2 separate regions of the Homo sapiens genome follow, and region 2 is linked to region 1. The links come from fine-mapping of genetic effects on gene expression. A gene starts in region 1. The other region holds a variant in brackets. All regions are shown on one strand. Distances are between the middles of the regions.

Region 1 (5,249 bases):
ACATTTGATTTAAGCACGATTCAAAATAAGTAAATACAGATGATAACACAGCAAATACTGAAAGTTGGGTAATCAGCAAAAATAAATGGCATTATCCAGAGCACTATAAATGCGTGAAAGAAAACTGCAAAAATAACTGTTTTTGTTTTTACAACTTTCCAGTGGCTCACTGTCTCCAAATGGGGAGATATGAGAGGAACTGTAGGGAAGAAGAGAAACTGGAAGAGCATAGGGAAATGTAAACATGAGAAGGGAATAGGAGAGTGGAGGAAGGGGACAACTTCAGTGTCACTCTCTCACAGACTCTCCTGCCCCTTGTGATCTGGACAGACCCTGGCAGGCCTCGAGTTCCCTGGAGGTTGCGCCTTAGCGACAGATGACCCGTCTCTGACCACCAAGCACCTAGAAGGCACTTTCGCAGGAGCAAGGCAGGGGTCTGGGGCGCGGAGGGGGTGGGCGCAAGCCGCCCTCGTCCAGCGGTTCCCGCCGAGCATGGTGATAATGAGGGTGGGGCCAGCGTTGGCGGTAGAGCGCCTGGTGGCCCCGGGGCCCCTCCTCGTCCTCCGCGCCTCCCTGCGGCGCGCAGCACAGAGAGCCCAGCCGCTTCCGCAGCTGTCGCCGGAGCCGGCAGTCGCCCGCCTGGAAGAAGAGGTAGACGAAGGGATTGAGAGCGCTGTTGGCCATCGCCACCACGCGCAGCGCCGCCGACAGGCCCTCTCCCTCCCAGTCTCCCGCGGGCCCGGACGACCACGCGGCCGCCAGCCGGGCGGCAAAGTAGGGCAGCTCGCAGCCCACGAACAGCAGCGCCAGCAGCAGGCTCATCTTCAGGCTCTGCACCTTGGCGCGGGGCAGCGCGCTGGGCGCAGGGGCTCGACCTGGGCTCGCCGACCAGGGCGCTGCAGCCGCGGGGGCCTGCGGCCGGTGCCGCCACCAGACGGAGAGTAGGTGGCCGCAAGCGACGCCCAGGACCGTAACAGGCGCGACGAAGCCCGCGACGGCCTCGTAGAACGCGTAGACCTGCAGGTGCCAGCGCGGCAGGGGCGCGAAGATCCCGTGGCAGCGACGCTCCCCCGGCCAGGCGCGGGCGGCCGGGGGCGCGCCTGGCTGCAGGGACGTTGGCGGCGGCGGCGGCGGCAGCGGCGAGGGGGAGTCCCCGCGCACCACGAAGGCCGGGGGCAGCGCCAGCAGCAGTGCCAGCAGCCAGCCCAGGGCGGCGAGGGCACGCGCGGGCAGCGGCCGGCCGTGCGGAAGACGCACCGCGCGCCGGCGCTCGAGGGCGATGAGCACCACGAGGTGGGCCGAGGCGCCCCGCCCGGATGCCTGCAGCAGCTGCAGGAAGCGGCACGCCAGGTCCCCCGTGGCCGCGCGGGGCTCGCCCAGCAGTTCCCAGGCCAGCTGTGACAGCGCCGTGCCCCCGCACGCGTACAGGTCCGCCAGGGCCAGCTGCACCAGCAGGAAGTCCATCTTGCGACGCTTGGGGCCCGCCCAGGGCCCGCCGCCGCCGCACAGGCGGCACAGCACTGTGGTGTTGCCTGCCACCGCCACCACCAGGATGACCCCCAGGAACACCAGGCGGACGCGGCGGCTGGGCGGCCCAGAGGCAGGGGCTCCTTGCCCCAAGGTCAGGTTGAGACCCCAGCCCAGCAAGATGGGCACGGAAATGTTGGGCGCCGGCGGCAGAATTGAGGGGCTAAAGAGATCCTCCATCCTTGTCCCGGAGGAAGAGGAGGCACCGAAGAGGGCGGGCAGGACGCGGGAAACCAAAGTGGAGGCGAGGCGGCGCGGGGAGCGACGCTGGGTCTATACGAGTTCCCAAAGTTAGTTGAAAAGGCACACGCACAGAGAGGGAGATGGATTCGGGCGGCTTTGCGCTTAGTTGTTTTTGTCGATTGTCCTCGTGATTTGTCACTCAAATGTGGGTTGTACACTCGAGGAACACACATGATTCCTATTCTCCACCTTCCCCGCGTCTTCCCTCCCATTCCCGGCGGGTACTCTTCCAATCTCTGCAGCGGCCCCCGACGCTACCCTCGCGGAAGCCGCGGACCCCTGGGCGCTGAGAACCTCATCCATTCTCTATTTACGTGTAAAGCACAGCAGGACAGAATGTCGCTTTGCTTGGCCATTGTATACGGCCAGTGTTATGCCAGCACCCACACAAGAGAGGACCTCTTGACTGAGATTGTACCACACGCCCCCACCACCCCAATGTGATTGCCAGTAGGAAAAAAATAGAAAAGACATTAGTTTTTATTTTAAAGGTTTGAAATGCCATGGATCTGCACGAGCATGAGAAAAACAGGAACACAAGAAACCTAACAGCGTTTTGAGCAAAGAGGAGACCTATTAGCTGAATTTTGATCAAGATGTGTCTTCTCTGTCCAAGAATGAAAGTATTTTAATTAGAGGGTACTAAAGTCAATGATGTTGCTTTTAGGAGTGGCAGTGTTGCAGATCGTTCCAAATACTAGGAGCAGTGGGTCACAGCTGCTTTCTTGGTGATGTAAAATTCATTTCATTAGTCTGAAGAGGGCATTAATAGGTTTTATGCAAATGGTAGTGCATTTATTGCTTTTCTCCTAATATTTTCATCCAGTGAAGGATGCGTCATCACACTCCTCATTCTCTTGATTCTGTTTTCCAGCAGATGGGAAGTTGCTAGGAGGGGCTACGCCTCCAATAAGCCTAGAGAAAAGGTGACTAAGAAAGTGATAAGGCGGCCAATTTTTTTAAAAAAGAAATCCAAGTCACAGGAAATGGTTTAGATTAAATGTTGCTGCTTTCATTTTAGCCTTGTCTCCTCACAAACACATTTTAGTTTCCCTGTTGGAAGCATCCATTTGTCTTTTTATGCACCCTCCACGTTAATCATGGTGAAAGTAGAATTTCCTGTACTTCCTGGCCTGGGGGCCAGGGAGGTATGAGTGTTGTCTAGGGTTCACATTCCCAATCTGAGGAAACATTTGGAACTTTAAGATTCATGGCCTAGGAAGATTTGGTGGGTTCCATGATAGTCCTGCCAGCTGCTGTAGGAATCCCATTTCCCAAGCTGTTGTCCTTTGGCCAGAAACCTTGGTTATTTTCATCATCATCTCTGTGGTGCCTCGCTCTGGTCTGACAGGTTGTAGTTATCAGTGGGTATGTGTTGAGTTGATGAATTAGTGGATATACGATGCTTTTCAGATACCTTCGAGCATAAATGCCTGCCTTGACTATAAATCCATCACCTAAGAAAAAATTCCTTTTATACTATGCCAGTATTGTCCAGAGGAGCCCAAGGAAGCTCTGTGGAGACATAGGAATAAGTGTTCCTGGTGGGACATTTAAGAAAGCTAGAGTGATAGCCTTGGAAAATCTAAAATCCTGGTTTGATTTTCATACTCTCCCTTTAGAACTTTTTATCCAAGGCCTTTTTCTATGCACACACATCATCCCAGTTTATAATGCACTTCTTCCAGGGAGCCTTCTCTGAGCAATGTTCATCATTCAGTGATTTTCCTAGCCAGTATCATTTCAGTGTTTCTCAAGATAGTCTATCATTTGTCTCAAATTTGTTGAAATGCTCTTATATATTAGCATTTCAAAATGACTATAGTGAAATTTCACAGAACTTTAGTAAGATCTGATAAAACATTGATTTTCAACAAATTCTTTTTTTTTTTTTTTTTTCCCTTTTTGAGACAGGGTCTCACTCTGTTGCCCAGGCTGGAGTGAAGTGGCATGATCATAGCTCACTGCAGCCTCGACTTCCTGGGCTCAGGTGATTCTCTCACCTCAGCCTCCCAACTAGCTGGGACTGTAGGCAGACACCACCACACCCAGCTAAGTTTTGTATTTTTTGTAGAGGCTAAGTTTCGCCATGTTGCCCAGGCTAGTTTTAAACTCCTGGGCTCAAGAATCTGCCCACCTTGGCCTCCCAAAGTGTTGGGATTACAGGCATGAGCCACTGGGCCTGGCCTAAACTAATTCTTATTAAAATTATACAATGCACATAGTTTTGAAAGTCAAATGGAACTAGAAGGCTGATAACATAAAGAGTTCCCTGTCCTATACATCTCCACTTCTTTATCCCCTCTTTCTAGAGGGAACCAATTTAGACTCTATTTGCTCTTTCTTCTGGCATTGACTTAATTCATAATAGTAAATAATATATATGTAATGCTATTCATTGATTTAACAAATTGATATATTATCTGTTAACTTCTTATTAAAGACTTATCTCTCGCACCTCTGTCACTATTTCCATTTCCCATACCATTAGAACAATACTGTAATTTTGGGTTAGACTTATATTTGGTGTTTATATTATTATGAAACAAAAATATTCACAGTTGAGTTGTATATTGTGAATATTATTTTTTGTTATTTTTAAAGTTAATAATTGCCTTTTCTTACTTTTCATTGTTATCATAGCTAATTCTTCCTGTACCCTCAAATAGTCCCCCCAAGCAATTTCCACAAGGTCAGTTTCAAAACGTAATATAGCAGCTCCAATTTTTTTTCACGGAAACCTCTTTACCAGAGACTTTCATTTTTCTCTTATTTGGGCTAATTTCTCCCAAGGCCTACTGCATAACTACCATCTGCGGACCTCCATTTGTTGTCGTCATTGAAACTTTCTGCCTTTCTCTTGGGTTGCAGTTCCTGTTTCTTGGATCTCTGGTCTTTCTCCTTGATTTCTTCCTTTTTGGTAGAACACATCATCTAATATTTCATAAGGTTTACAAGGTTGTACAAAGCCTGAGAACTAAGTGGTAAGAGACCTCATTGTACTCCTTATTTGAGTCATGCAGATTCTGTCTGGACATGTTGCCCTCTGGGCCAGCGGTCATCCTGGCATCTCACGTCAGCATCGTCCTAGGGATTCCTTTCACTTATCTCATGCTGGTTCTCTTGTTTTCTGATTTAATGGATTTTTTTCTTTCCTGGTTTATTTTCTTGCTTGGGAAGAAAGCACCTTTCAGTGACTTCTTGAGAGAAGGTAACTATTTGGGATCCCACATGTCTGAAAATTTCTTTATTCTACCCTATTGCCTAACTGATTATTTGGCTGGGTTTGGAATCCTATTTTTGAAAATCTTTTCCTTCTGAATTTTGAAGGCATTACTCCATTCCCTTTCTGGCTTCTGAGTGTTTGTGTTGAGAAGACTGAAGCCATCTGATTCATGTTTTGCTTAGATATGATCATTGTTTTTTTCTTTCTAGAAGCTTGTTATTATTCTCTTTTTTCTAACCAATTTTACAAAAAT
Region 2 (5,503 bases), 370 kb before region 1:
TTGACAGGTTTCTGACTTTTCCATTTATGGCATAATAAAAAGTATATAGCACATGCAGTTTTCATTTTTGTATCATCTGCCAGGAATCTGGAAGCTAAATTTAGTGCTCAACTGCAATAATTATCTTGAACTTTTAGGTACAATTAACTTTTTCTCCTTTATTATTTGGTTCATCTTCTTTTAATAGTGTCTTATTAATTTCAGTCTCAAATTCCTTTTTCAATGTATATTTCTGAGTTAAATTTAACATAAAATTCAGTTATTTTAAATATACGGTTTGATGAGTTATCAGAATTGTATATAGTCATGTAACCATCACCATAATCAAGTCATAGAATATTTCCATCACCCAAAAAAATTTCCTCTTTGCACTGATCCTCCTCCACCCTCCCCCTAACACCCAGCCTCAGCCTATAGTTTTACCTTTTCCAGAATTTCTTATGAATAGAATCACATGGAATATAATGTTGTGATTTCTTTTAACATAAGGTTTTTGAAATTCATCCATGTTATCAATATTTCTATTATTGCAAAATAGAAATCCATAGTATGATTATACCACAATTTGTTTATCAGTTACCCAGTTGATGGATAATTGGATTGTTTCGTTAGACACCATTACAAGTAATGTGGTTATAAACACTGACACACAACTCTTTGTATGGACACATATTTTCATTTCTCTTGGACAAATACCTACAAAATAGGAGAGTGTTGGGTCATATGGTTAGCATATGCTTACTATGGACAGTATCAAGTTGTTTTCCAGAGTAGTTGAACACTTTGCAGACCCACTTGCAAAGTAGGAAGTTCCAGTTGCCCCACATCTTTGTCAATGCTTGAGATTGCCAGGCTTTTAATTTTAGCCATTCTAGTGAGTTTGTAGTGGTATCTCTTTAATTTAAAGTAATTAATTTAAATTTAAATTAATTTAATTTAAATTAATGCAAATTAGTTTTAATTTGCATTTCCCTGATAACTAGTGATGTTGAGTACCTTTTCATGTGCTTACTGGGCAAACATAGATGTTCTTTTTTGAAGCGTCTGTTCAAATCCTCTGCCCAAAGTTGTTTTCTTATTATTGGTTGTAAGAGTTCTTTATATATTCTGAATTCAAGCCTTTGGTCAAATGTGTTTTGCAGATACTTTCTCCCAGTCTGTGGCTTGCCTTTTCATTTTCTTAATGTACCTTTCACAAAATAAAATTTTAAATTTGGGGGAAGTCCATTGTTGATTGTTTTCTTGTAAGAGTCATTTTTGTGATTTAAGAAATCCTTTCTTAACCTAGGCTTTCTCAAACTTGGCACATACTGAACTTTGTTGCAGGGGCTGTCTTGTGCATTGTGGGAGGTTTATCAGCATCTTGGGCCACACCCACTGGCTAGCAAATGCACCCTTTCCACTCCAGTTGTGATAACCAAAAATGTCTCCAGACATTGCCAAATGTCCCTTGCAGTACAAAATCACCCCTGGCAAGAACCACTGGTTTAACCCAACACTACAAATATTTCCTCCTATAATTCTTTTTCTAGCTTTAGCTCTTACATTTAAATTTTCTAGCTTTAGCCCTTACATTTAAATTTACAATCCACATTAATTTCTGTGTAGGGTCTAAGGTAAGGATCAAGGTTTATTTTTTCCATAAAGATATTCAATTGTTCTAGTGTCATTTGTTAGAAAAATTATCCTTTTCCCCACCAAATTACCTTGGTGCTTTTGCTGAAAATCAGTTGATCATATAAGTAAAGCTCTATTTCTGAGCTCTCTATTGTGTTGCATTGCTATATCTCTATCTTTATGCTGATAACATGGTCTTGATTATTATAGCTGTATAATAAGTCATGAAATCAGGAAATCTATTTTAATTTTTAAAAAGTGTGTTTTCTACTTCCCACACTACACTGATGTCAAAAAGTCTAAATACCTCATTTTTTTTCAAAATTGTTTTGAATTTTCTAGGTCCTTTGCCTTTCCGTAAATTTTAGAATAAACTCAACAATTTTTTTAAATAAACTTTTTATTTTGGAATAATTTTAGATTTGCAGAAAATTTGTGAAAGTGGTATAGTTCTCACATACCCCTCACCCAGTTTTAGTTTCTCCTAATATTATTATCTTACATTACTGTGGTACATCTGTCAAAACTAAGAAACCAACATTGGCATTATCACTATTAACTAAACTAAATACTTTATTTGGATTTCACCAGTTTTCCATGAATGTCTTCTTTCTGTTCCAAGATCTAATCTAGAATATCACATTGCATTTAGTCATCCTGTCTCTCCAATCTCCTGGTCTGTGTCAGTTCTCAGCCTTTCCTTGTTTTTCATGCATGACCTTAACAATCTTGAAGAGTATTGATCA[C/T]GTATTTTGTGCAATGTCCCCCAGTTTGGTTTATCTGATGTTTTTCTCATGATTAGACTAGGCCCATGGGTTTTCAAGGAAAAAAAAAAAAAGCATAGAGAAGTACCCCTCTCATCACATAATATCAGGAGACACCTGATATCCACATAACATCACTGATAATGTTAAAGTCAATTTCTTTTTTATATGCTTGCTAGGATTTTGATTGGAATTGAAATGATTCTATGTATCGGTTGGGAGGACAATTGTCATTTTAATAACACGGAGTTTTCCAATCCATAAAATCCATTTAGAGAATTCTCTTTAGAATTTTCTTTAATTTCCCTTGCCTCCTCCAAGCATGGATTTCTCGTCAAGATCCATATGCTTCTGCTCACTCTTCTGAACCTTTAAGTAGCTGCTGCATATTATTAATGTCATTTCCCAGAGTCTATAGTTCTTACCTGCAGAAGGTTAGTTCAGTGAGATCTAATTCATCTGTTACTGAAAATAGAGCCCAACATTGCCTCAAATACTTTTTTAAAAATATTGAAACATAGTATTTGTACATATTTATGGAGTACAAGTGATATTTTGTTACACACATAGAATAAGTAGTGATTAAGTCAGGTATTTGAGTATTTATAATTTCTGTGGGTTGGACACATTTCAAGTCCTCTGTTCTAGCAATTTTGAAATATAAAATATATTGTTGGCCAGGTACGGTGGCTCACACCTGTATTCCCAGCACTTTGGGAGGCTGAGGCGGGTGACTAACTTGAGCTCAGAAGTTCGAGACCAGCCTGGCCAACATGGTGAGATCCCGTCTCCACTAAAAATACAAAAATTAACCGGGAGCAGTGGCACGTGCCTATAATCCCAGCTACTCAGGAGGCTGAGGTAGGAGACTCGCTTGAGCCCTGGAGGCAGAGGTTACAGTGTGCCCAGATCACACCATTACACTCTAGCCTGGGTGACAGAGTGAGACCTTTGTCTCAAAAAAAAAAAAAAAAAAAAAAAAACAAAACTTGTTGTTAACTATAGTCACTCTACTCTGAACATTAGAATGTATTTCTTCTATCAAACTGTATGTTTGTACCCATTAACTAGCCTGGAAAAAACAGACAAATTTATTATCCTTAAAATACCTTTAGAGTATGGTCATCATAACAATCTGTGCTAAGCCAACCTGCAATCTTAAAGTTCACTAACAGCTGGTAGACACACAGCCTGTGATCGTGAAACAAAGCTTTTCTCTGTGTGAAAGGAATAGACTATATGGAATTGATGTCTTCATACTTGGTTAAAATTTCAAATCTTAAGAGACCAAGCATAGGAGAACCATATATTTAATTCTTTATGAAAATTATCCAATGTCCTTGTTGTGGCAAAGTGGGCATCTTTCTGTGCAGCAATAAATTTTTGATGGTAATACAGTTAACTTTTTTGGAAAGCAAATGCACAAGAACCTTTAAACTATTCATATATTTCACCTAGTATTTCCACTTCTGGGACTCTCTCCTGTGGAGAAAACACTAATTAGAGTTAGAAGGAAGAGTGACCCTTAAGTACAAATATTTTCACAAAAGCATTGCTTATAATACTTTTCTAAAATGGGCTCGGTGTGGTGGCTCACACCTGTAATCCTAGTGCTTTGGGTGGCTGAGGTGGGAGTATCACTTGAGCCCTGAAGTTCAAGGCTATAGTGAGCTATGATCACACCACTGCATTCTAGCCTGGGTGACAGTGAGACACCATCTCTAAAAATAAAGATAAAAAATTAATTAATTTTTTAAATGATACTATGTAAAATATCCAATAAGAAGATAAATGCTTATATTCACATAATCATTTTTAAATGTTTATAAAAAGTTTTTGACATTATAATGTTAAGCATATATAATATGCTGTATGAGCTCAACTCTAATTTCTTTTAAGTGTAGAACAAAAAGACTAGAAGATAATATAATAATTTTAAAGGTGACTGGTGGGACTGTAGATGTTTCCTTTTTCTTCTTTCTACTATTTTTCAATAGTAAGCCAAGAAAACAGTAAGATATTTTTAATATTATAAAAACAAACCTTATTATTGAATTTTTGATCCAGAAAAGAAAAAACTTCAGAATACTAGTTTGCCCCTATACTTTATTGATAAGGAAACTTCCTCATCAAATTGTTTAAACTCCCTATATCTCCTATTGATAAGGAAACTTCCTTTAAACTAAGTGAGCTCACAAAGCAAGTTGGCAATTCTCTAAAACTGACATTTCCTGACTCTGGACATGATACTATATTTTGGTCATTTTTGCTGTGTTCCAGACTCCATTTCTAGGCTTAAGGGAACAGACATGGTTCACATCAGCAAGATTTAATTAAAATAATTTTTAAATTATTAAATAAAATATTTCAAGCTTATTTTTAACATGAATGCTCTAGAATCTGGAAAATGGAAGGAATCTTAGAGTTGTGTTTCCAGTGAATATTTCAAAGGGTGAGTAGAAGTGGAATTTTATTCTAAAAAGCTTTCTAGTTTTGAGATTTAAGGGTCTAATAAAGAACTCATGTTACATTTTATTTATTAAAAGCTCACTGTTTCCTTGTTAGAGTTATTACTGTTTGCTTGCAGTTACCCAAACAGACATGGCAGGGTACAACAAGATCTTGTAAATCAGGACTTTCTGTTCTGAATGGGTTCATCTTTACTGTTGACCTCTCAGCTAATGGTATAGTACCTGATAATTATCTACTAAATCATACATTGGACATAATGATCTTTAACTTACCTTCAAATATCCCAAACAATTTTTCCTAAAGTCTTTCTAAATTAAAAAAAAAGAAGACATTTATAACTTAACATTTCATATCCCTGGAAGATAATCCAATGGGAATATATAAGGTTAATAGAGTGTTCTTATCAAAAGTGATCTGGTCTGTTTGACTTACTGTTTGGAGTCCAGGTAATCAGGCCTATTTACTAGTTTAAGAATGTTCAGCAATTAGCAGTGTTCAAACAGCACCAATCTGCTATGTTATTTCAGCTGGGAAAGCAGCTTATATGAACCAATACGGCTTCCTTTCTAAAAATAAATGACAGCACTTTCTACTCACTGGGGAGCTGGTCCTTGGTCCTTTAGGCATGTCACACTGTCACAGTGCATAAC

Evidence for each region. PIP is the estimated chance that this variant, and not a neighbour inherited with it, causes the effect.
Region 2: its variant is fine-mapped to the expression of GPR150 in whole blood (INTERVAL, PIP 0.95).

Annotation. Positions count from the first base shown.
Region 1 is chr5:95,616,734-95,621,982 of GRCh38, reverse strand. It overlaps GPR150 (G protein-coupled receptor 150), which reads right to left and starts at 1,896. Exons shown (of 1, transcript NM_199243.3): 1 at 1-1,896. The coding sequence starts at 1,707. The coding sequence ends at 403. RefSeq lists silencers at 266-325, 546-995, 704-998, 1,016-1,065, 1,156-1,555 and enhancers at 29-528, 1,725-2,340.
Region 2 is chr5:95,989,359-95,994,861 of GRCh38, reverse strand. The region is part of intron 1 of LOC101929710 (a long non-coding RNA gene); the gene reads right to left. The region is part of intron 2 of LOC105379096 (a long non-coding RNA gene); the gene reads left to right. It also overlaps a transcript of CAST not described here. Among named protein-coding and RNA genes, the nearest start is that of ELL2, 30 kb to the right of the region's middle. The variant C/T (reference allele first, on the strand shown) is at 2,364.